Linked DNA regions of Homo sapiens. The protein of the gene in region 2 purifies or fractionates together with the protein of the main gene of each other region. This does not show direct contact. Each region holds a gene or a part of one and is shown on either strand. Other genes may lie near its edges. The genes, in order: ADNP2, CHD4, SMARCC1, SMARCE1, NUMA1, USP36 and ZFHX3.

Region 1 (3,500 bases), on a different chromosome or scaffold from region 2:
TGTTATACATTTTTTCTTCCACATGTTAGAAATCTTACAATATGTTGTTACTTTTATTTTAAACTGTAAAAAAGAAAAAAATTATATTGATCTACATGTCATTGATGATAGTCTTCATCCCTTTGCGTAGATGTGTATTTCCATCTCGAGTCATTTCCTCTGCCTCCTGAAGGACTTCATATTTTGTAGTGCTGATGTGCTTAATTAACTCACTATACTTTCTCTCTAAAAAAAAGTTGTCTTTTAGGAAGGAAGAGATTTTTGCTAGGTGTGGAATGCTATTTTTTTCCCCTTTTTATATTTTAAAGATTTCACTCTTGTCTTCTGGCTGGCATTTTTTCCAACAATATGTTTTCTGTCATTTTTGTTCCTCTCTGTATTTTTAATACTTTGACTATAATGTGCCTTGGTTTGGTTTTCTTTGTGTGTCTTTTGCTTAGAGTCTGGTGAGCTTCTTGATTTTGTGGGTTTATAGTTCTCATCAGATTTGGAAAATTTTGTGGCATCATTTCTTCAACTAGTTTTTCTTCCCCTCACCCGTTTGTCCCTGATACTCAATTACACACACAGTAGTTCCCCCGTATCCTCAGTTTTGCTCTCCACAGTCAACCACGGTTTGAAAATATTATATGGAAAATTCCAGAAATAAACAATTCATCTGTTTTAAGTTCCATGGCATTCTGAGTTGTCTTCATCTTGTCACGTGAGGCGCCACACAGGCATCGTGTCATCGCATGCCACCACAAGAAGGGTGAGCACAGGATGTAAGATACTTTGAGAGACCACATTCACAAAACTTTTATTACTGTATATTGTTACAATTGTTCTAGTTTATTATTGTTGTTAATATCTTCGTGTACCAACTTCCTGTACCAAATCTAATTTATAAGTTGTATTTTATTGTAGGTATGTCTGTATAGGAAAAAACGTAGTATATGTAGCGTTTGGCACTGTCCACAGTGTCAGCATCCACTGGGGTCTTGGAACATGTCCTTTGCAGATAAGGGGGGACTCCTGTATATTAGGCTCCTTGATACTGTCCCATAGCTCATTGATGCCGTTGTTGGGGTTTTTTCAGTTTTTTTTTTTTTTTTTTTTTAACCATTCCCTCTTTCATTTTGTGTATTTCTCTTGCTTTATCTTCAGATTTACCAGTCTTTTCTTCGGCAGCATCTAATCTGCTCTTAATCCCATGCAGTATATTTTTCATGTTAGTGCATTTTTCATTCATGGAAGTGCAATTTACCATCCATCTTTCACTTTCTTTCACTTCTCTCGTTGCGTTCATGTTGTTCTCCTGGTTTGGGGTCATATTTTTCTGCTGCTTTGTATGACTGGAAGTTTTTGTTTTTTGTTTTTTGACTGGCAGTTTTTGACTACACACTGGACATTGTGTTTATGGGTGCTAGAGTTTGTTGTTTCCTTTAAATATATTTGGGCTTTGTTCTAGAACATGTTTAAGACACTTGGAATTTTTAAGCATTGCTAGAGTGGGTCTGGAGAGCCTGGGACTGTGGAGACAGACCTTGCTGTGAAGGCTTGACTTATGTCACTGTATTAAGGGGTCATTCCCCTCTCCCGGTGGACTCTGGCATTTTGATAGTTGTTTTACCTTCTCCTTTCACTAGTTCCCACTAGTGAGCCAGTAGAAAAGTCCCACTGGTTTTCTCACACATGAGAGCCTCAGTGCTCAGAAAAAGTCTTCAGGAGACCCTGTGCAAATTTATCACAAGGTCAATATGGCAGGATGCCCCTTTTTAATAGTAGCTTACTTCTTTTGTCTATTTTGAAATAGTGAATTCTTGCTTTCTATCAGGTGATAATGACTTCATAATTACTGTGGGGCTCTTGTTAATTCCAGCCTTCTTTATTCATTTCTGCTGCTCTAGCAGCATCTTTTAATTGGGCTTAGATTCTTGTGTGTGCTGGTTTTGAAGATGTACTGACAGTTCCTTTGTGTTTCCTAGTGTTTATGCTTATTTCTGTTTGTTTCAGATATGTTTGCTCTTTGTTGGAATCAGAATAAAGGACCTGTGTGTTGTATACTTTATCTTTTAAGATAGTTCTGAAAATAACCTAATTTTCAGTAGAAATCTTTGTAATAACTTGGCCAGGTGCGGTGGCTCATACCTGTAACCCCAGCACTTTGGGAGGCCGAGGTGGATGGATCACGAGGTCAGGAGATTGAGACCAGCCTGGCCAACATGGTGAAACCCCGTCTCTACTAAAAATACAAAAATTAGCCCGACGTGGTGGCATGTGCCTGTAGTCCCAGCTAGTGGGGAGGCTTAGGCAGGAGAATTGGTTGAACACGGGAGGTGGAGGCGGCAGTGAGCCGAGATTGCACCACTGCACTCCAGCCTGGGCGACAGAGCAAGACCCCGTCTCAAAAAAAGAAATAAATAAATAAAAATAAAGAAATATTTGTAATAACTTGTCTTTTTCTTGTTAGTTCTGAATTGACTTGGTAAGCTACATACTAGCGTAGAGTTAAAGGTAATTGTATTAACTATTTTTCTGTAGCTTTTTTTTTAAAGTAATCATTGTTATAAAAATAATACTGTAATCTATGAATGTTTGAAAATGCAGGTAACCGTTTCTAATTAGAAAATGAAATTTAAAATGCCACATTTCTGTCATTCAGAAGTTGCCACCATTAACATCGTATTGTTAGCTGTTTCTGTGTGTTTATTGTTCTTACCATGAGATTGTATTGATTAGCTATTTTACCACTTGCTTTTTTCACTTTTCTCTGTTCTGTCTTGTCATGTATTACATATTCACCTTATTTAATATGCAGTCCATACTCAGATTTCTTCAGTTTTACCCAGAACTTTTTTTTTGTTTTTTTTTTTTTTTTGAGATGGGGTCTCGCTCTGTCTTCCAGGCTGCAGTGCAGTGGTGAGATCTCGGCTCACTGCAAGCTCTGCCTCCCTGGTTCAAGCAATTCTCCTGCCTCAGCCTCCCATGTAGCTGGGATTACGAGCACCCGCCACCACGCCCAGCTAGTTTTTGTATTTTTAGTAGAGATGGGGTTTCACCATGTGGCCAGGCTGGTCTCAAACTCCAGACCTCAGATGATCCAGCCACCTCAGCCTCCCAAAGTGCTGGGATTACAAGTGTGAGCCACCACACCCGACCCCCAGAACATTTTTTACACTCGGTTTATGTAAGCCAGGATTTGTTGTGGACCCTGTTACATCTAGTGGTTGGGTTTGCAGTGCTTTCCCTGACTGTTGGCCAGACCAGCCTCTTGTCCTGCAGAGATGCCCCTCCTTCCAGATGTGTCTGGTACTTTCTTATAGTGTTGTTTCAGCTTAGTCCCCTGTCCCCTGAGCTTCTTTTAAATGAGAAGTTCTACTGAAAGGCCCAGTTGATTCAAGTTAAACATTTTGGGCTAGAATATATATGATGTTCTATGCTTCTTGTGTCACTTCAGGGACCCCAGTCATATTTTGTTGCTTCAATACAATAGATGGCAGTCTGGTCTTTGTGTGCAT
Region 2 (3,399 bases):
CCCTGTTTTGTTTTGTTTTTTCCTGAGACAGTGTCTTGATGTGTTGCCAGGCTGGAGTGCAGTGGCAAGATCTCTGCTCACTGCAACCTCTGCCTCCCGGGTTCAAGCGATTTTCCTGCCTCAGCCTCCCGAGTAGCTGGGACAACAGGCGTGTGCCACCACGCCCAGCTAATTTTTGTATTTTTAGTAGAGACAGGGTTTCAGCATGTTGGCCAGGATGGTCTCGATCTCTTGACCTCATGTTCTGCCCGCCTCGGACTCCCAAAGTGCTGAGATAACAGGCGTGAGCCACTGTGCCCATCCAAGACCCTGTCTTAAAAAAAAAAAAAAGTTCTCGAGAGGGAATTGGAGTAGGGACGGAACTCACAAATGGCTTTATGGAGAAGATGGCATTGGAATGAAGTTTTGAAGAATGCGACGGAGATTTTTTTGGTAGAAACAGAAGGGTATCTGAACAAAGGGATTAGGTTGGGCAAAGATGTGAGCCAGCAAAGCTTAGTATGTCTGGAAATAGCAGATAGCCCAGTTGAGCTGTAGGGAAACATTTGTGTTGGGTGATGGTGGGAGGTAGGTTGGAACGAGAAAGGTGGACGGGCTAGAGGTCAGTAGGTGGGTTCTTGGCACCAGATAAGAGAGTTTGGACTTTACGCTATCGTTAATGGGCAGCCACTGAAAGTTTGTGAGCAGAGTTTTGATAGGACCAAGGGAAATGGAAACAGCATTCATAAGATTATAAAACTGTCATATAATCATGAGGTGTTAAGGGTCTGGGCTGTGATGCTGGTTGTGGAAAATGAAAAGGGTAAAGATAAAGGAAACAACACCAAAGAATTTATTGGACTTAGTGACTTACTGTAGGGGTCAGCAAACCTTTTTTTCTCCCCCCAAACCAAAAACGGTTAATAAAACCCTTTTTTTTTTTTTTTTTTTGAGACAAAGTCTTACTCAGTTGCCCAGGCTGGAGTGCAGTGGCGACATTTCCTGGCTCACTGCACCCTCTGCCTCCTGGCTTCAACCGATTCTCCTGCCTCAGCCTCCTAAGTAGGTGGGATTACAGGCATGTACCACCATGCCTGACTAATTTTTGTATTTTTAGTAGAGATGGGGTTTTGCCATATTGGCCAGGCTGGTCTCAAATTCTGGACCTCAGGTGATCTGCCCGCCTTGTCCTCCCAAAGTGCTGGGATTACAAGTGTGAGCCACTGCACCCAACCACACCTTTTCTATTAAAGGGCCAGATAGTCCCTTTGTGGGACATGTAGTCTCTGTTGCATATACTCAACTCCATCTTTGTTGTGTGAAAGCAGCCACAGGGGATACATAAATGAATAAGTTAGGATGTGTTTCAGCGTTTCATCTATGGATATTACAATTTGAATTTTGTATAATTCTCATGAAGTGGCATGAAATAGTCTTGTTTTGACTTTTTGCCAACCATTTTAAAATGTAAAACCCATTCTTAGCTCTTGAGCCATATAAAAACAGGTGGTGGGGCAGATCTGGCCCACAGGCTGTAGCTTGCCAACTCCTGACTTACTGGATTTGAGGTACAGAATGAGTGAGACTGAAAATAACATTTTGAGCCTGAGTCACTGAGAAAGTTAAATTGTCATTTAAGAAGAGAGGGAGCAGTTTGTAGAAAAGAATGATATCGAATTTTAGACAAGTCTTTTGGTATTTCTCACAAATCAGCACCCCTCCCACTACCGACCCCCATCACCATACACTAGTGGGATCAGAACCAGTGCTGAAGGTACATGTTTGAGAAGCATCAAATCATCTGCATAGAACTGCTGGCTGACACTAGGAGAGGAGAAGGGTATGAGAAATCTTCTCTTATGTTGAGTCATATGTTTTATGAATATATTTTTTAAGTAATTAAAATCTTTTCATAAATTAAGAACCAACATTCTGCCTCTTGGGATATATTTCAAAGAATCTTTAATACAGCTCCATCAGATGACATGTGCATGAGTGTTTTTGCAGTATGATTTTTGGTGGTGGGGGCCTAGAGGCAACATAAATGTTCAGCATTAGGAGAATGCATAGGTGAAACATGTATTCATATCATGGGGCATTAAACAACAGAAGCAACAAAATTCATGTGCATACAACATAAGAGTACCTTTTAAAAGGTATGTAGTGGGAGAAGAAAAAGCATTTTATAGATACAGAAAACATCATTCTGTAACTTAGAAACATACATAGGAAACAGAAACAGTTTTTAAAAACCTACACAAAAAGCCACAGTATTACTACATTAGAAAAGTTGCTTTTCAGAGGAATGGGAGTGAGATGGCGATAAGAGGAAATAAAAAACAAAAATATTTTTAAATAGCAAAATAACCCCTTTTTTTTTGAGACAGTTTCCCTCTGTCACTCAGGCTGGAGTGTAGTGGCGCGATCCTGGCTCACTGCAACCTTTGCCTCCCGGGTTCAAGCATTCTTCTGCCTCAACCTCTTGAGTAGCTGCAGTTACAGGTGCGCACTACCATACCTGGCTAATTTTTGTGTTTTTAGTAGAGACGGGGTTTTGTCATGTTGGCCAGGCTGGTCTTGAACTCCTGACCTCAAGTAATCTGCCCGCCTCAGCCTCCCAAAGTGCTGGGATTACAGGTGTGAGCCACCGTGCCCAGCCAAAACATGTTTTTGAAGAGTAGTTGATAAAGAGTAGATGATAAAAAGGAAGATGCTTAACTGTGTAACTAAATGAAAACATAATATGGGTATGTATATAGTATGATCTCAGTTATGTAAAAAACTATGCACAAAAAAACCTAAAAAGAAAAATATCAGGATGTATTTCTAGAAGGTGGGATTATCTGTTGTTAAAAATTTTTGATATTCTATTTTCTAAATTGAGTTTTTATCGCTTTTGTATAAGAGAACCTAAAGGGTAAAGAGTTTTAAAAATGAGGACATTGAAAAAGGGAAAGAAAAAAGTTACAAGGCAAAGTTAAACTACTTGGGTGTGGGAATGAGCTGTCCATGAAGTTCTTCATAGGTTCTTATTACCATCTGAAACAATGAGAGGTGAGCTGAGAGGCCAGTCAGAAGTGAGTAAAGTGAGTTATCAGTCGAACTCCCGTTTCCTCTTATCCCTTGTCCAGCTCTTAGAACAAGCTCTGGTGATTGAGGAACAGCTGCGCCGGGCTGCTTACTTGAACATGTCAGAAGACCCTTCTCACCCTTCCATGGCCCTCAACACCCGCTTTGCTGAGGTGGAGTGTTTGGCGGAAAGTCATCAGCACCTGTCCAAGGAGTCAATGGCAGGAAACAAGCCAGCCAATGCAGTCCTGCACAAAGGTAGCCAGTGGCTCCCCTGCCTCCTGCCGATTCGGCCTCCCTGATCTGACTGCATCCTAATGTACATATATTTGTTTTCAAACTTTCAGAGCT
Region 3 (2,562 bases), on a different chromosome or scaffold from region 2:
GGCCAAAAGTTTAGCTACTATTTATAGTTCAGAGAGATAGGAAGCATAAGAATTCTTGCTCTGTAGGAGCTTTAGTTGAGAAAACAAGAAATGAAAACTTGGATAGAACTTAGCAAATGAAGGCATATAGAACTTACCAAAGGTTACATGAGACTGTGATGTGCCTTAAGTACACTCTAATACTCTGGGAGGCTTCATGGACAGAGACATGTCTGACTCTTCTCTGGCCCCCAGAGTCTGGGACAAAGTAGGTGCACAGAAGAAAGACACTAATTTATCTAGGTATATAAGATCACAACAACTTTTTAAAATTATCTCCCTTAAGCTAGTGGTCAGTGGTTGTGTAGTACAGTAGGTACCTCTTTTTCTTGGCAAGAAAATGTTTGCCAAGCCACCCTGTGGACCATACATAAATGAGCTCGCCTATCAAGAGAGTTGACCAGTTTTCCATCCCTATTGCAGAGGTAGTATCACTGGTCTTTACCAATTTACCACTGTCATGTCCTGCTGGTCACCCATGTTTTGTACTTCAGGATTCCTTCCCAAAGGGACCTCAGTAGAGCTCCTTGAGAATGTGGAGGGTTTCAGGTGGAACCTTCCCACCTGCTGCCTGGTTCCTGCCATAAGTCAGTGCTCTGGAATTCTGAACCATGTGAATTGGTTCTAGGATACTAGGTAGGCCACACTGGATGAGTTGCTTCTCCACTTCAGCCCTTCATTTCCTCCACTGAAAGATGACACAAGGGATTAGATCAGTGAGCTTCAGAATGCTTTCAAGAGTCTTAAGGGTTTGGTAGAAACCTCTTGGGCATAGAGTTGGGTGAATTGATTGGTGAGCAATGCTGCACTTTATTTCATATGTTTTCAATTCTGACAAGATCTAGGGGTTTTTAAAACCCGGATTAAATGATCTCTCGGGTTCTTTTGTACACTAAAGCAGGTAAAGTTGAAATAGGAAAGAGTCCCAGACACTCATACTAATTGTTCCCTTCAGGACATGACCTAGTTTGGGCCAAAAATCGAAGGACTGCAGTTCAGGAGCTGTGGAGGCCTCCCTGGACTATCCAGTTTGTCAGCAACTGCCTCAAGTGAAGCTCTCTGGCCCTGGTGGAGACATTTATATAGCAAGAATTTATTGATAATCTATTTTGTGCCCAGCTAGGCTAGGGACTGTGGGGGCGGGGGGGGGGCGGGAAGAAAAACAAGACATAGAACTGTCCCAGGAAGGAGCTTATTTTTTAACTGAAGAAATAAAATTAGAACCCTTGAAATACAATGCAATCAAAATTAACTTCTGAAAGGGCCTGGAGCGATTCTTGGAAGGAGTTGGCCTGGAAGGAGGGTGGGGGAAATTCAGACACCTCCCACTCCCCAGCCACTAGGGTTAGGCTAAGCAACTTGAGCAGTGCCCTAGAGGTTCAGAAGGAATTGACTTGCATAGACCACAGTGGAATCAATGCCTCACAGGGTGCATTGGTTGCCTGCCACTAAGGAAAGGACTTCTGTGTCTTTTTTTCACTGAATAGGCTCTTTCCTGAGTCTCTTGTATTTCCAGCAATAACGAGTTACTCTTGGATATGTTTGCAGATCCCCCTCCACCACAGCAGCAGCCACCGCCACCACCACCTGCAGATGGGGTCCCTCCGCCTCCTGCTCCTGGCCCGCCAGCCTCAGCTGCTCCTTAGCCTGGAAGATGCAGGGAACCTCCACGCCCACCACCATGAGCTGGAGTGGGGATGACAAGACTTGTGTTCCTCAACTTTCTTGGGTTTCTTTCAGGATTTTTCTTCTCACAGCTCCAAGCACGTGTCCCGTGCCTCCCCACTCCTCTTACCACCCCTCTCTCTGACACTTTTTGTGTTGGGTCCTCAGCCAACACTCAAGGGGAAACCTGTAGTGACAGTGTGCCCTGGTCATCCTTAAAATAACCTGCATCTCCCCTGTCCTGGTGTGGGAGTAAGCTGACAGTTTCTCTGCAGGTCCTGTCAACTTTAGCATGCTATGTCTTTACCATTTTTGCTCTCTTGCAGTTTTTTGCTTTGTCTTATGCTTCTATGGATAATGCTATATAATCATTATCTTTTTATCTTTCTGTTATTATTGTTTTAAAGGAGAGCATCCTAAGTTAATAGGAACCAAAAAATAATGATGGGCAGAAGGGGGGGAATAGCCACAGGGGACAAACCTTAAGGCATTATAAGTGACCTTATTTCTGCTTTTCTGAGCTAAGAATGGTGCTGATGGTAAAGTTTGAGACTTTTGCCACACACAAATTTGTGAAAATTAAACGAGATGTGGAAGGAGAACCTCAGTGATTTTATTCCCTAGTGAGGCCTCTGAGGGCCTCCACACTGCCTGGCAGAACATACCACTGAACTAGTATGTGCTAGAGGAGGGCACAAACATCCGCTCCTTCCCTAGGCCTGCTGGCTCTGGTTTTCTATGCAGATGATTCATTGGATTGGGGGTGAGTGTTTTGTTTTTCTGGGGGCAGTGTGAGCTTTGAGGGTTGGAATATTGGGAGGCATTCCTTAGTTTCCTCAACTAGCCTGGAAAGTTAGG
Region 4 (3,500 bases), on a different chromosome or scaffold from region 2:
TCTACAGGATACTTAAAAATTAGCTGGGCATGGCGGCTTGTGCCTGTAGTCCCAGCTACTCCAGCTGAGGCTGAGGTAGGAGGATCAGTTGAGCCCAGGAGTTCAAGGCTGCAGTGAGCTATGATCATGCCACTGTCCTCCATCCTGGATGACAGGGCAATAACCAGTCTCAAAAAAAAGAAAAAAAAAAGAGGGCATGTGCAATTATCCACACAAGACAATGAAGGCTTTTATTCAGTGAGAGCCTCTTCATCATAGGATAAATAGCTGTTCAATTAGATCATAACCAGAGAAGCCATTCCCCCAAAAAAGGAAGCAGACGACTAACATGCAAAGAAGAACAAGCCCAAATTGCTTAGACCTTATGTCCCCATCTGTGGTCAACACTGGGGCCATATAAATGAAAGAAGAAAACAAAAGCTAACAACAAAAACAGATAACTTAGACAGATGTAGCACAGATGTACCATATATAACCCTAAAGGTGAAAAACTCTTAAAAAGTAGAAAGGTTACAGAGTTTTAAAAAAACTGTATCTTACCCAGTAGTTTTAATTTCAGAAGTTTATTTCCTAAAGAAATTACTCAAAAGGAAACAAAAGTAATTTTTTTAACTTTTTACAAAAACAACAGTTTTTAGCTGTAGTATTTATAATAATGAGAATTTTAGGAACTACTTAAGTGCCAGACAATAAGGGAGGTGCTAAACTGACATAGCAGCGCAACATAGGCCTCTGTAACAGGGTTTCCCCTGTAACAAGGTTTTCTTAAGTGTGGTTCCTCCCTGTCTGGTGGGTCACTGAGGTGATTAAGTGGTTCAGAGAGGAGCGTTTGTTTTAATATGTATTACTAAAGAGAAAGCTCTTTTTTTTTTTAAGTGAGTTAGTTTAAAGAAAAATATTAAGTAAACGATAGTACAGGCTGTTAGTAGATATATGAAAAACTATGAAGGTGATAGAGCAAAGACTGAGATTAAGGAAACACTAGATAGCTATTAAAAATAAGCCTGTAGTGTGTGTGCAGTGGCTCACACCTGTAATCCCAGCGCTTTGGGAGGCCAGGATGGGCAGATCACATGGGGTCAGGAGTTCAAGACCACCCTAGCCAACATGGTGAAATCCCATCTCTACTAAAAATACAAAAATTGGCCGGGCGTGGTGTCATGCGCCTGTAATTCCTGCTACTTGGGAGGCCGAGGCACAAGAATCACTTGAACCTGGCAGGTGGAGGTTGCAGTGAGCTGAGACTGGGCCACTGTACTCCAGCCTGGGTAACAAGAGGGAGATTCTGTCTCAAAACGAAACAGAAGCATATAAACCAGACCCATACTGTATGAACTTGGGTCATACCATTACACACTGACAACAGCTGGCTAAGTGTAAACTGACAAAAATTAAATTTGGAATCAGACATTTATTTTTCTTCTATAAAATTACTTGAGGGCCTGGGAAACTGAATATTGTTAGAGGTGATGTATTCTCTGCTGTCATAATTTTACAAATGGGCATTTTCATTCATTTTTAAAGTGCTACAAGTGACAAAGTCACTGCCCAGTTCATATGTTGTTCATTAGTTGTTAAATGCCTTAAGTTACTACCAAGAGAGTGAAACATTGGGCAGAATTTCAATTACTGCCATCACATACAGCCTTCACATTGATTCCGAAGCCAGAAGAGACATGTTGTATCTCGTTTATGTTTTAGCCAAATCCTTCTCAGACACAACATTATCACTTAAAGACTGTGAGATAAATTACTACCTTGGCCAATGAACACATTACGTCCTCTGTATGGTTTTTATCAAGTAACTGCCCCAGTGCTCCCATGACGCTGGGCAGGTCCACTTGTTAGGCCAGTGAGGGCCATAGTTCGTTGGTAATTAAGTGTTAACATTGTTACACTCCTTTTTATGGTTACTGGTGACCTGATTTCCAGAACAATTTGTTCACTCCAGATTATGATGATGGCTTTTCAATGAAGCATACAGCCACCGCCCGTTTCCAGAGAAACCACCGCCTCATCAGTGAAATTCTTAGTGAGAGTGTGGTGCCAGACGTTCGGTCAGTTGTCACAACAGCTAGAATGCAGGTCCTCAAACGGCAGGTCCAGTCCTTAATGGTTCATCAGGTAAAGTCATAAAACATTCATTTCAATAAGATGTGCCTATACCACAAATCCCAGGTGATATGATTCCTACACCATGCCTAAATCTACCTGTTAAATATGTCAATCTAACCTGTTCCTGATTTGGAGAAGAGGTTTAAGGAAGTGGACCTTTCCCAGATGTTTAATAAGTTTGTCATTAAAAACTATAATATAGAACCTTGTAATGGAAAGTATATTCGTTAAGAAATACGTGTGAACTTAAGAATTTTGAGGCATCCTATCAATCTTTACTGCTATGCTAAATATTTTTTCCCAAGGAATTGCTCAGGCCTGAAACAGTATTCTTTAACATTTACCTATTGATCATAATCATTTCTTTGTGCTGCATTTTGTATTTTTTAAATCTTAGCTAGACTCATGTGATAAATGATCTAAAGTTCAAAACATTATTTGGTACACTGTTTGAAAGTATGGACCATTAAAAAATGAGACACAATTATGAAGCCTGATCCTGTCTTGCAGCGAAAACTAGAAGCTGAACTTCTTCAAATAGAGGAACGACACCAGGAGAAGAAGAGGAAATTCCTGGAAAGCACAGATTCATTTAACAATGAACTTAAAAGGGTATCTGTTTAATATGTTAACTATACTTTTATCACTATACCTGTTACTTTATTTTTCCTCATTCTTTTTTCCAAAATAGTGTTTTTATTGAATGTTGTTCACTTTGAAACAGGGCTAACTTTATTATAAACCTGTAGGATCCTTTTTTTATAAGATTGTTCCCATTCTCTGGCAAAATTGCAATAAATTTGAAATATCATAGAGTATACACATATCTTCTAGGCCTGTAAATGCTAGAGCCCTCTGATATGTTAAACTCCCATACAGTCATTAATTACTTTCATTTTATTGTGATTTATTCATCAAATGTCGTCATTAAATGTAATTTATAATTTGCACTTTGCATTCAGACAAGGAAATCTAGTTGGTAGCCCAAAATGTAAAACGGAAGCCTTATGTATACCCCAGAACTTTCACTATTTTGCCTCACCAGCTGCTCTGGAATATCCTATATTATACAACTGCTAGAGCTGCTGTTTTTTCTTGTAGACCCAAGAGTTTCAGAGAAGACCTAGAACCACATTTTTTTGGCACACACACACACACATACAGGTGTATAGATATATATATATAGTTTATAGGCAAGAAAACCAACTTTTGAAAGAATATATCTGGCTCAAAAATTATAAGGAAAAAACATTACGGAGTTCTGTTTTTTTCTGATTAGTTGTGCGGTCTGAAAGTAGAAGTGGATATGGAGAAAATTGCAGCTGAGATTGCACAGGCAGAGGAACAGGCCCGCAAAAGGCAGGAGGAAAGGGAGAAGGAGGCCG
Region 5 (3,500 bases), on a different chromosome or scaffold from region 2:
CAAGCAGCCCATCTCTCTGATTTTTCAGAGGTACCAAGGAAAGCACTTGACCTGGGCCTTCCTTTCAGTCCACTCCCCTGGCTTCTCCTAATAGCTCCTCATAGTGGCAATGCCCAGACCCAGATGTCCCATCCCCACCAGATGCCCATGGCTGCTTCACAGCAAACACGTCCCAATCTAAGCCCACTTCTCTGTTCTTCCTCCTGCATCTCCCATTTCAGTGAATAGGAACGCCCCCCACTCAGGCCCCCAAGCCATGAACGTGGGCATAATCCAATGTCGTCCTGCTTGGCGAGCCCAATCACCAAGCTTCCTGAACAGCTCCTAACCACACCCCACTCCATGCTCATGTCCTTTCCCTGGTCTGCTTCATCTCCTCTCACCTAGACTCATCATGGCACTGACAGAGGAAGATGAGTGGTGACAAGCCAAGAACTCAGGCCAGGCTGCCCAGGGTCAAACCCCAGCTCTACCACTGGGGAACCTTGGGCAAGTGACTGCCCCTCTATGCCCCAGATTCATCTGTTAAAGGAGACAGAATAAACCTACCTCAGAGGGTTGTTGGGGGACAAATCAGGTATAATTGTCATGAGTGCTTTATGTCTAGCACAAAATAAGTAAATGTAAGTGTTTAATAAAAACATTTTTCCAGTCTTAACTTCTATACTAGCTATTAGAATAATCTTTTTAAGATGCAAATTAACCATGTACTCTTCAGTTTCAAATTCTTCCAAGGTTCCTTTTTTTTTCTCCTAAACCTTTCAATTACAGCCACCAAGGTTTCCTCAATGCCTTTAGGATCAAGTCTTAATAGTCGGTCTCCAATGGGCCTTCCTGGCCTCACATCTCAGCTTAGTCAGGCTCTTTCACAGCCTCTGTTCACACTGCTCTTCTCGTCAACCTGGCACACACACCTATGGATGCTTTCAAGACTCAGCAGGAGCGATAGCTTCCACGAAGCCTTTCTTGACCACTTGCTTTTTATTCCAACTGTGCCCTAAATAGATATCTGGTATAATACCCGTTTTTCGTTATTCTTCTCTAAGAATAAATTTAGATCACATCTTATTTATCTCACTAGGATACAGCCTGATAAACAGCAGGCACTCCATAAACAGACATAGGGAGGAAGGCTGCCTCCTGACCTGGTGATACTGAGTGGGGTCCCCTCCTCGCAGCTCAGATCCAGGCTGTCAATACTCAAGTCCAGCTGGGGCTTAGCCTGGGGCTCACGGCTCTTTAAAGCATCAGTTGCCACCTGGAATTTGCCCAGGTCTCGAAGCTGCTGGTCTGCATGGGCAACCTGAGAAGGAGAGGGCCAGGGGGAGAGTGAAGAAAAGCCTAAGGCAGCAGTGGCCTAGGAGGAGAGGGCACAGGGGTCCAGTGGAATAGGAGTGAGGTGAGTCTGCCAGCCAAATTCTTACCTGTGCCTCCAGGCTGCGCACCTGGGCAGTAAGGTGGCGGCAGGTCTGTTCAGCCTCCTTGGTCTTCAGCCCAGCCTGCTGTAGCTCATGGCCCAGCCGTTCAGCTTCAGCTCGCAGCTCTTTGTTTTCCTTCTGCAGCTGCTCCAGGCTCCGCAGCTGCTCCTGCAGCTCTTGGTTCTGCTGCTTCTTGGCATCATAATGTGTTTTGGCTTTCTCCATCTGTGGGCAGAGAGGGTGGGTGGGTGGGGTAGAGGTTGAAGGGCAGGAGGAAGGTGGCATGGGCTGGGGCTGGGCTCCTTACCTGCAGCTTATAGTGCTCAGCTGCCTGCTCCTTCTGGCTCAACTGGGCTTGCAGTTCATTCAGCTGGGCCTGGAGGCGCTGGGCCTCCTGCTGGCTCTCGCCTCCCTGAGCCTGGACAGCCTGAGAAGAAAGGCCACTCAGGAAAGCTGGTCTGGCCGCTCTACCCAAGTCCGCTTATCTGCACCAGCCACTGGGGCTCCACAGGTGCTTCAGACTCCTGCACTTTCTTAGGAAGCGGAAGAAAACCACACCACCCCAAATACTCTCTGCCCGACTACAGTCTACTAAACCTGAAGCCCACATGCCCTTCAGTCCACATCCGTAGTGGCCTTTCCCTGACCAGCTCCTGCCCTATCTTTGCCTTCTTTGAGACCAGACACAAAGTGTCACACCCTCTTTGCATGCACAATCTCCCGTAGGAGGAAGGGAACCAATCCTCAGGGAACACCCAGGTGCAGAGCCTTACTCTAAGGCACTTGGCATGTGAGCTCTCTTAGGACAGGGGAACTTGTTTCTCCTCAAAGCCACTCTGAGAAGTCACTTCACCCTCTTTTCAGAGGAGGAAACTGAGTTCAGAGATTTAAGCAAATTGACCAGAGTAACAGTGACTAAATGGCAGAGTAAGATTTGGTCCACCTAACTCCAAAAGCCCATGGGGGCTTATTTATGATGCCCACACTGCCTCCTGTCCAGACCATAACTCCTTAAGAGCAGGGCCTGATTCTCTGTCCATCTGCAAGGCCAACAAGTGCTTTGCTGTAGATAGAAGCATCCCCCCTTTGCCTCTCCTAACATAGGACAGGCCCCACAAGGAGTAGAATAAACATTTGTTTATTGCAATCAAGACATGCTGTGGCACCATGGTATGAAGGTGAGCAGGAGAAATGAAGCTCTGAGCTCCCAACAACTCCTAGGAGCCACCAGGGCTTTAGTGAGTCCCAATGCCACTGGTGCCCAATTCCTTTGCCCCTGACTGAAGGCTGTGAAGCCTAGAACTGCAAAAAGCAAGTATTAAACCAAAGAAGGTGACACAGTTGAAAGCATTAAGAATGTTATTAAACTGCACTGTAATATTCAACACTGGTGACACTCTCGTTCTTTCCCTGCCCAGACTATCTAGACTTACATTGTCCAAAAGAACTTTATGCAATGGTGGAATGTTCTGTATCTGCGCTGTCCAATACAGCAGCCACTAACCACATGTAGCTACTGAACAGGGGCACAGTGTAGCTAGTGTGATTGAAGAACTGGATTTACTTTAATAAATTTCAATAACCACACGTGACTAGTAGCTGCTGAAGTGGACAGTGACAGTTGAGAGATGGGAACCACCCTGGTTGTCTCTCGAGAGCTCCCAGAAGACACATGCAGGGGCTTCTAAGCCACAGGCTTCCTAGGAGGGCTACCTGGAATGCAGGGTGCCCCTCTTCTGCCCCGACACCCCCCACGGCCCCAGAGCTTAGAGAATAGCTTCCCTCCCTTGTCCAGAGGCCAGACCCATTCCCCCAGCTGCCCCACCTTCAGCTTCTGCTGCTGCACCTTGCTGGCTTGGTCAGAGTCAGCCAGTTTCTTACTCAGTTCTTCCACCTGGGGAGGGAAGAGGAGGACAGAAGACTCAGGAGGACTTCCCCTGGATGTTCATCCTGGATGTCCACCCATCATGGGGTTTCCCAGACCAGGATCCCCAGTGTTCCTAGAATAAACTCAGGCCCTTTCTCTGGCCTCCAATTACGGAACAGCCTGCTGCCCAGGCTGCTTGGCAGGGCCTGAATGAG
Region 6 (3,500 bases), on a different chromosome or scaffold from region 2:
AAGTTTTTATTTATGTCGATAACTGCAGGCCAGCACCCTGTGGAGGGCGACCGGCAATGACCTCCGTCCACCTCCCCCCTCACCATCCTCCGACCTCACCCACCCCATGAAAACCTCTCACCCCGTCGTTGCCTCCACTTGGCCCGTCCATAGAGCCAGGTAAGCTTTGGGCCGGGATCTTCTGGGTGCCAACTGGTTCTCCCTGTGGTTGCGTGTGCTTGGCTGGTGAGGAGTTGGACGAATCGCCAACCTCACAGGACAGACAAAGCATTGGGGCAGCCAGGAGGTACAGGGGGGCGTCACTGACCAAGATCCCCCTCTTCTGTGTTCCCCTGTGGTAAAGGAGCTTTGGGTGGTGAAGGCAGTTCGGCCTCTGCAGTCCTGATGTCTTAGTTCTGTCTTTGTTGGTGGTCTGTCTGCGACATCCTTGTGGTGATGTGGTGTGCTGGGGACTGACCTGTCCTGTATCCCTACCAGCCCCATGACAGTACTTCCCAGTCGAAGAGAAAGGCGAAGTGAGGCCTTGGCGAGAGGCTTGAGTGAGCTCGGAGTCCCGAGCGTTTTTTGTGGGACGTCTTGCCTGCTAGCGTCATGCAGGTTAAGAACTGTCTCAGGGCTCTCGGGTTCCTCTGCAGACACCTGCCAGAGATGCAGCCCCTTCCCTGTGCATGTGGGCCCTGGTCCGCAGGGGCTGCCTGCGTCTCTTAGGTGCCTCGAGTGGCAGGAAGTTGAGAGTAACTGGTAAATGGCTGTCTGGAAGCCGCTGGGAGTGGGGACGGAAGCAGTGAAAGATGGGGTGAGTCATGAGGCGGCCTGCGGGGACTGTACTGGTGGCCTCGGCGCTGGGTTCTAGTTCTAGAATCTCCAGTGCTACATGAGGGCGAGGTATGACTGTGCGTCGCCCACAGCCTCTGCCTTACTCTCCTCTCACATATACACACACAAGCACACCTCTGCCCTATACCTAGCATAAGATTTGTGTACGTGGGAGGGCCTTAAGTGTTTGGGTGTTTTTCGTTTCTTGCCTTATAAGCTTTTTTGGAAAAGATTCCAGAAGACACTTAGAGTAATCAAACATCGTGCAGCTGGCATGGCCCTTATAGTTTGTTTAGATGATGACGGGGGTCCTGTTTTCTGCAGGAACCCTGGGAGGTGGGCTTTGTGGTCCCAGCTCATTGACAAATGAGAACATGGTGGTTCAGAGTGGGAAGTTAATTTTCCTAGAGACACATAGCTGGCAAGAGGGAGCCTCACTGGGTTCGGCACTAGATCCTGTCCCGGACACGCCTTGCTCATGATTCTGCTCTACGCATCTGTGTCCCGGTTTCAGCGTCCTAATGACGGTAATGTGGAGGTGTCATTAGGCCAGCTCAACACTTGCTTTCCTTATGAGGCTCATTTCCTGCCCGGGAACACCCTGAGACTTTCGGAGGTTGGAAAATAAATCCTCACGGGATCTTTTTTTTCCTTACCATTTATTGTTTCGTGAAGGTTTCCTCCCTTAACACATTTGTATTAAAGATGTTTTTACATTAGAGCTCGCAAAAATACTTGAATTGCTTGGTGACAAGAAACTAAGGCATGGAACAATTCTTATTAACTTTGCCTTTTAAAAAAAAAAAAATTTTTTTTTTGACTTTTAAAATCACGTGTTGGCTTGCTTTTTTTTTTTTTTTTTTTTTTTTTTTTAAATCTCAGGGATCAGTTATTTTAAGTTCCAGGGTACATGTGCAGGATGTAAAGGTTTGTTACAGAGGTGCCATGGTGGTTTGCTGCACCTATCAACCCACCACCTAGGTAACTTTGTTTTTTTTTTTTTGTTTTTGTTTTTGTTTTTTTGGTTTTTTTTTTTTTTGAGACGGAGTCTTGCTTTGTCGCCCAGGCTGGAGTGCAGTGGCGCGATTCGGCTCACTGCAACCTCCACCTCCCAGGTTCAAGCGATTCTCCTGCCTCAGTCTCCTGACTAGCTGAGATTACAGGCGTGTGCCACCACGCCCGGCTAATTTTGTATTTTTAGTAGAGATGGGGTTTCACCATGTTGGCTAGGCTGGTCTCAAACTTCTGACCTCAGGTGATCCAGCCACCTTGGCTTCCCAAAGTGCTGGAATTATAGGCATGAGCCACTGTACCTGGCCAACTTTGCATTTAAATAGATGTTGAATTAATTGTTAGCTTTCTTTCAAACATACATGTAACTTAATGTGTATCTGAAAACTACAGGGTAAAAGCCTTTTCAGATTTTTAGGTGAAAGGGAGGGGAGTGAGGGTAGACAGAAGGAACAGCTCTGCTGGGTCTTTCAGAACATCCTCTCCCTGTTTCCTGGCTGTCCCCACAGGGCTGTGTCACCTGCTCCCCAATCATCCAGCCGCCTGCAACCCCCCTTCAGCCCCCACCCCACATTGCTGTCCAGTACCCCCAAGCCCCCAGGGACGTCAGAACCACGGAGCTGCTCCTCCATCTCGACGGCGCTGCCTCAGGTCAACGAGGACCTTGTGTCTCTTCCACACCAGTTGCCAGAGGCCAGTGAGCCCCCCCAGAGCCCCTCTGAGAAGAGGAAAAAGACCTTTGTGGGAGAGCCGCAGAGGCTGGGCTCAGAGACGCGCCTCCCACAGCACATCAGGGAGGCCACTGCGGCTCCCCACGGGAAGAGGAAGAGGAAGAAGAAGAAGCGCCCGGAGGACACAGCTGCCAGCGCCCTGCAGGAGGGGCAGACACAGAGACAGCCTGGGAGCCCCATGTACAGGAGGGAGGGCCAGGCACAGCTGCCCGCTGTCAGACGGCAGGAAGATGGCACACAGCCACAGGTGAATGGCCAGCAGGTGGGATGTGTTACGGACGGCCACCACGCGAGCAGCAGGAAGCGGAGGAGGAAAGGAGCAGAAGGTCTTGGTGAAGAAGGCGGCCTGCACCAGGACCCACTTCGGCACAGGTAAGGGCAGGAGCAAAGTGGCATCTGTCTACCTCTGACGAGAAACAAAGCAAAACCACAGAATCTACCCCCAAGTAGGTATGGTCTGGAAACGTAGTCTGCTTGCGTGGTTTTCTAAAATGTGGATTTGTGATCAGATGTCTCCTCTGGCTGGGTGTGGTGGCTCACACCTGTAATCCTAGCACTTTGGGAGGCTGAGGCGGGTGGATCACTTCAACCCAGGAGTTTGAGACCAGCCTAGGCAATATGGAAAAGCCCTTTCTCTACCAAAAACAAAAATTGGTTGGGCATGGTGGCATGCACCTATAGTCCCAGCTACTCAGGAGGCTGAGGTGGGAGGATGGTTTGAGCCCAGGAGGTGGAGGTTGCAGTGAGCTGAGATCGCGTCACTGCACTACAGCCTGGGTGACAGCTAAACCCTGTCTAAAAAAAAAGAAAAAAGAAAAAATATCTCCTCTGATAAATACCAGTGGATTGATCCTTGAAGCGACAGTGGTGTGGACAGTAGTGTCCATCATTGTATGTGCAGGGCCGTTCAAGGATGCTGGATCAGGTGTCCCGGGCCAGGCC
Region 7 (3,500 bases), on a different chromosome or scaffold from region 2:
TGCCAAACAGTACAGAGACCACTACGATAAACTGTACCCACTGAGGCCCCAGACCCCAGAGCCACCACCACCTCCCCCTCCACCCCCTCCACCCCCACTTCCGGCAGCGCCGCCTCAGCCGGCGTCCACACCAGCCATCCCCGCATCAGCCCCACCCATCACCTCACCTACAATTGCACCGGCCCAGCCATCAGTGCCGCTCACCCAGCTCTCCATGCCGATGGAGCTGCCCATCTTCTCGCCGCTGATGATGCAGACGATGCCGCTGCAGACCTTGCCGGCTCAGCTACCCCCGCAGCTGGGACCTGTGGAGCCTCTGCCTGCGGACCTGGCCCAACTCTACCAGCATCAGCTCAATCCAACCCTGCTCCAGCAGCAGAACAAGAGGCCTCGCACCAGGATCACAGATGATCAGCTCCGAGTCTTGCGGCAATATTTTGACATTAACAACTCCCCCAGTGAAGAGCAAATAAAAGAGATGGCAGACAAGTCCGGGTTGCCCCAGAAAGTGATCAAGCACTGGTTCAGGAACACTCTCTTCAAAGAGAGGCAGCGTAACAAGGACTCCCCTTACAACTTCAGTAATCCTCCTATCACCAGCCTGGAGGAGCTCAAGATTGACTCCCGGCCCCCTTCGCCGGAACCTCCAAAGCAGGAGTACTGGGGAAGCAAGAGGTCTTCAAGAACAAGGTTTACGGACTACCAGCTGAGGGTCTTACAGGACTTCTTCGATGCCAATGCTTACCCAAAGGATGATGAATTTGAGCAACTCTCTAATTTACTGAACCTTCCAACCCGAGTGATAGTGGTGTGGTTTCAGAATGCCCGACAGAAGGCCAGGAAGAATTATGAGAATCAGGGAGAGGGCAAAGATGGAGAGCGGCGTGAGCTTACAAATGATAGATACATTCGAACAAGCAACTTGAACTACCAGTGCAAAAAATGTAGCCTGGTGTTTCAGCGCATCTTTGATCTCATCAAGCACCAGAAGAAGCTGTGTTACAAGGATGAGGATGAGGAGGGGCAGGACGACAGCCAAAATGAGGATTCCATGGATGCCATGGAAATCCTGACGCCTACCAGCTCATCCTGCAGTACCCCGATGCCCTCACAGGCTTACAGCGCCCCAGCACCATCAGCCAATAATACAGCTTCCTCCGCTTTCTTGCAGCTTACAGCGGAGGCTGAGGAACTGGCCACCTTCAATTCAAAAACAGAGGCAGGCGATGAGAAACCAAAGCTGGCGGAAGCTCCCAGTGCACAGCCAAACCAAACCCAAGAAAAGCAAGGACAACCAAAGCCAGAGCTGCAGCAGCAAGAGCAGCCCGAGCAGAAGACCAACACTCCCCAGCAGAAGCTCCCCCAGCTGGTGTCCCTGCCTTCGTTGCCACAGCCTCCTCCACAAGCGCCCCCTCCACAGTGCCCCTTACCCCAGTCGAGCCCCAGTCCTTCCCAGCTCTCCCACCTGCCCCTCAAGCCCCTCCACACATCAACTCCTCAACAGCTCGCAAACCTACCTCCTCAGCTAATCCCCTACCAGTGTGACCAGTGTAAGTTGGCATTTCCGTCATTTGAGCACTGGCAGGAGCATCAGCAGCTCCACTTCCTGAGCGCGCAGAACCAGTTCATCCACCCCCAGTTTTTGGACAGGTCCCTGGATATGCCTTTCATGCTCTTTGATCCCAGTAACCCACTCCTGGCCAGCCAGCTGCTCTCTGGGGCCATACCTCAGATTCCAGCAAGCTCAGCCACTTCTCCTTCAACTCCAACCTCCACAATGAACACTCTCAAGAGGAAGCTGGAGGAAAAGGCCAGTGCAAGCCCTGGCGAAAACGACAGTGGGACAGGAGGAGAAGAGCCTCAGAGAGACAAGCGTTTGAGAACAACCATCACACCGGAACAACTAGAAATTCTCTACCAGAAGTATCTACTGGATTCCAATCCGACTCGAAAGATGTTGGATCACATTGCACACGAGGTGGGCTTGAAGAAACGTGTGGTACAAGTCTGGTTTCAGAACACCCGAGCTCGGGAAAGGAAAGGACAGTTCCGGGCTGTAGGCCCAGCGCAGGCCCACAGGAGATGCCCTTTTTGCAGAGCGCTCTTCAAAGCCAAGACTGCTCTTGAGGCTCATATCCGGTCCCGTCACTGGCATGAAGCCAAGAGAGCTGGCTACAACCTAACTCTGTCTGCGATGCTCTTAGACTGTGATGGGGGACTCCAGATGAAAGGAGATATTTTTGACGGAACTAGCTTTTCCCACCTACCCCCAAGCAGTAGTGATGGTCAGGGTGTCCCCCTCTCACCTGTGAGTAAAACCATGGAATTGTCACCCAGAACTCTTCTAAGCCCTTCCTCCATTAAGGTGGAAGGGATTGAAGACTTTGAAAGCCCCTCCATGTCCTCAGTTAATCTAAACTTTGACCAAACTAAGCTGGACAACGATGACTGTTCCTCTGTCAACACAGCAATCACAGATACCACAACTGGAGACGAGGGCAACGCAGATAACGACAGTGCAACGGGAATAGCAACTGAAACCAAATCCTCTTCTGCACCCAACGAAGGGTTGACCAAAGCGGCCATGATGGCAATGTCTGAGTATGAAGATCGGTTGTCATCTGGTCTGGTCAGCCCGGCCCCGAGCTTTTATAGCAAGGAATATGACAATGAAGGTACAGTGGACTACAGTGAAACCTCAAGCCTTGCAGATCCCTGCTCCCCGAGTCCTGGTGCGAGTGGATCTGCAGGCAAATCTGGTGACAGCGGAGATCGGCCTGGGCAGAAACGTTTTCGCACTCAAATGACCAATCTGCAGCTGAAGGTCCTCAAGTCATGCTTTAATGACTACAGGACACCCACTATGCTAGAATGTGAGGTCCTGGGCAATGACATTGGACTGCCAAAGAGAGTCGTTCAGGTCTGGTTCCAGAATGCCCGGGCAAAAGAAAAGAAGTCCAAGTTAAGCATGGCCAAGCATTTTGGTATAAACCAAACGAGTTATGAGGGACCCAAAACAGAGTGCACTTTGTGTGGCATCAAGTACAGCGCTCGGCTGTCTGTACGTGACCATATCTTTTCCCAACAGCATATCTCCAAAGTTAAAGACACCATTGGAAGCCAGCTGGACAAGGAGAAAGAATACTTTGACCCAGCCACCGTACGTCAGTTGATGGCTCAACAAGAGTTGGACCGGATTAAAAAGGCCAACGAGGTCCTTGGACTGGCAGCTCAGCAGCAAGGGATGTTTGACAACACCCCTCTTCAGGCCCTTAACCTTCCTACAGCATATCCAGCGCTCCAGGGCATTCCTCCTGTGTTGCTCCCGGGCCTCAACAGCCCCTCCTTGCCAGGCTTTACTCCATCCAACACAGGTGGGTTCTGCTCTAGGCGATTGTTTCAGGGCTAAATAGCTGCCCAGTCAGCATTCTGTTATGTGGATACCACCCAAACCCTCTGAGTGCTGGGCAGATGGGAAGCTTACCTTTCTAGTTCTTTAA

Evidence for each region.
Region 1: the proteins of CHD4 (region 2) and ADNP2 purify together in Homo sapiens (affinity purification with mass spectrometry; 3 studies listed by BioGRID and IntAct, with this or other methods). This does not show direct contact.
Region 3: the proteins of CHD4 (region 2) and SMARCC1 purify together in Homo sapiens (affinity purification with western blotting; 6 studies listed by BioGRID, with this or other methods). This does not show direct contact.
Region 4: the proteins of CHD4 (region 2) and SMARCE1 purify together in Homo sapiens (affinity purification with western blotting; 3 studies listed by BioGRID, with this or other methods). This does not show direct contact.
Region 5: the proteins of CHD4 (region 2) and NUMA1 purify together in Homo sapiens (affinity purification with mass spectrometry; 3 studies listed by BioGRID and IntAct, with this or other methods). This does not show direct contact.
Region 6: the proteins of CHD4 (region 2) and USP36 purify together in Homo sapiens (affinity purification with mass spectrometry; 3 studies listed by BioGRID and IntAct, with this or other methods). This does not show direct contact.
Region 7: the proteins of CHD4 (region 2) and ZFHX3 purify together in Homo sapiens (affinity purification with mass spectrometry, with the first as the bait; 3 studies listed by BioGRID). This does not show direct contact.

The regions. Positions count from the first base shown.
Region 1 is NC_000018.10:80,126,262-80,129,761, forward strand, and holds part of ADNP2 (activity-dependent neuroprotector homeobox protein 2), read left to right. Parts: intron 1-3,500. UniProt on the Homo sapiens protein: May be involved in transcriptional regulation. May play a role in neuronal function; perhaps involved in protection of brain tissues from oxidative stress. May be involved in erythroid differentiation.
Region 2 is NC_000012.12:6,572,981-6,576,379, reverse strand, and holds part of CHD4 (chromodomain-helicase-DNA-binding protein 4), read left to right. Parts: intron 1-3,110; coding exon 3,111-3,306; coding exon of another isoform or gene 3,307-3,309; intron 3,310-3,399. UniProt on the Homo sapiens protein: ATP-dependent chromatin-remodeling factor that binds and distorts nucleosomal DNA. Acts as a component of the histone deacetylase NuRD complex which participates in the remodeling of chromatin.
Region 3 is NC_000003.12:47,587,332-47,589,893, reverse strand, and holds part of SMARCC1 (SWI/SNF complex subunit SMARCC1), read left to right. Parts: intron 1-1,587; coding exon 1,588-1,685; 3' UTR 1,686-2,562. UniProt on the Homo sapiens protein: Involved in transcriptional activation and repression of select genes by chromatin remodeling (alteration of DNA-nucleosome topology).
Region 4 is NC_000017.11:40,630,819-40,634,318, reverse strand, and holds part of SMARCE1 (SWI/SNF-related matrix-associated actin-dependent regulator of chromatin subfamily E member 1), read left to right. Parts: intron 1-1,951; coding exon 1,952-2,124; intron 2,125-2,625; coding exon 2,626-2,727; intron 2,728-3,394; coding exon 3,395-3,500. UniProt on the Homo sapiens protein: Involved in transcriptional activation and repression of select genes by chromatin remodeling (alteration of DNA-nucleosome topology).
Region 5 is NC_000011.10:72,007,543-72,011,042, forward strand, and holds part of NUMA1 (nuclear mitotic apparatus protein 1), read right to left. Parts: intron 3,313-3,500; coding exon 3,244-3,312; intron 1,846-3,243; coding exon 1,726-1,845; intron 1,644-1,725; coding exon 1,425-1,643; intron 1,304-1,424; coding exon 1,146-1,303; intron 659-1,145; exon of another isoform or gene 604-658; coding exon of another isoform or gene 550-603; exon of another isoform or gene 1-549. UniProt on the Homo sapiens protein: Microtubule (MT)-binding protein that plays a role in the formation and maintenance of the spindle poles and the alignement and the segregation of chromosomes during mitotic cell division.
Region 6 is NC_000017.11:78,802,815-78,806,314, reverse strand, and holds part of USP36 (ubiquitin carboxyl-terminal hydrolase 36), read left to right. Parts: coding exon of another isoform or gene 1-28; coding exon 29-159; intron 160-2,336; coding exon 2,337-2,930; intron 2,931-3,459; coding exon of another isoform or gene 3,460-3,500. UniProt on the Homo sapiens protein: Deubiquitinase essential for the regulation of nucleolar structure and function. Required for cell and organism viability.
Region 7 is NC_000016.10:72,793,129-72,796,628, reverse strand, and holds part of ZFHX3 (zinc finger homeobox protein 3), read left to right. Parts: coding exon 1-3,374; intron 3,375-3,500.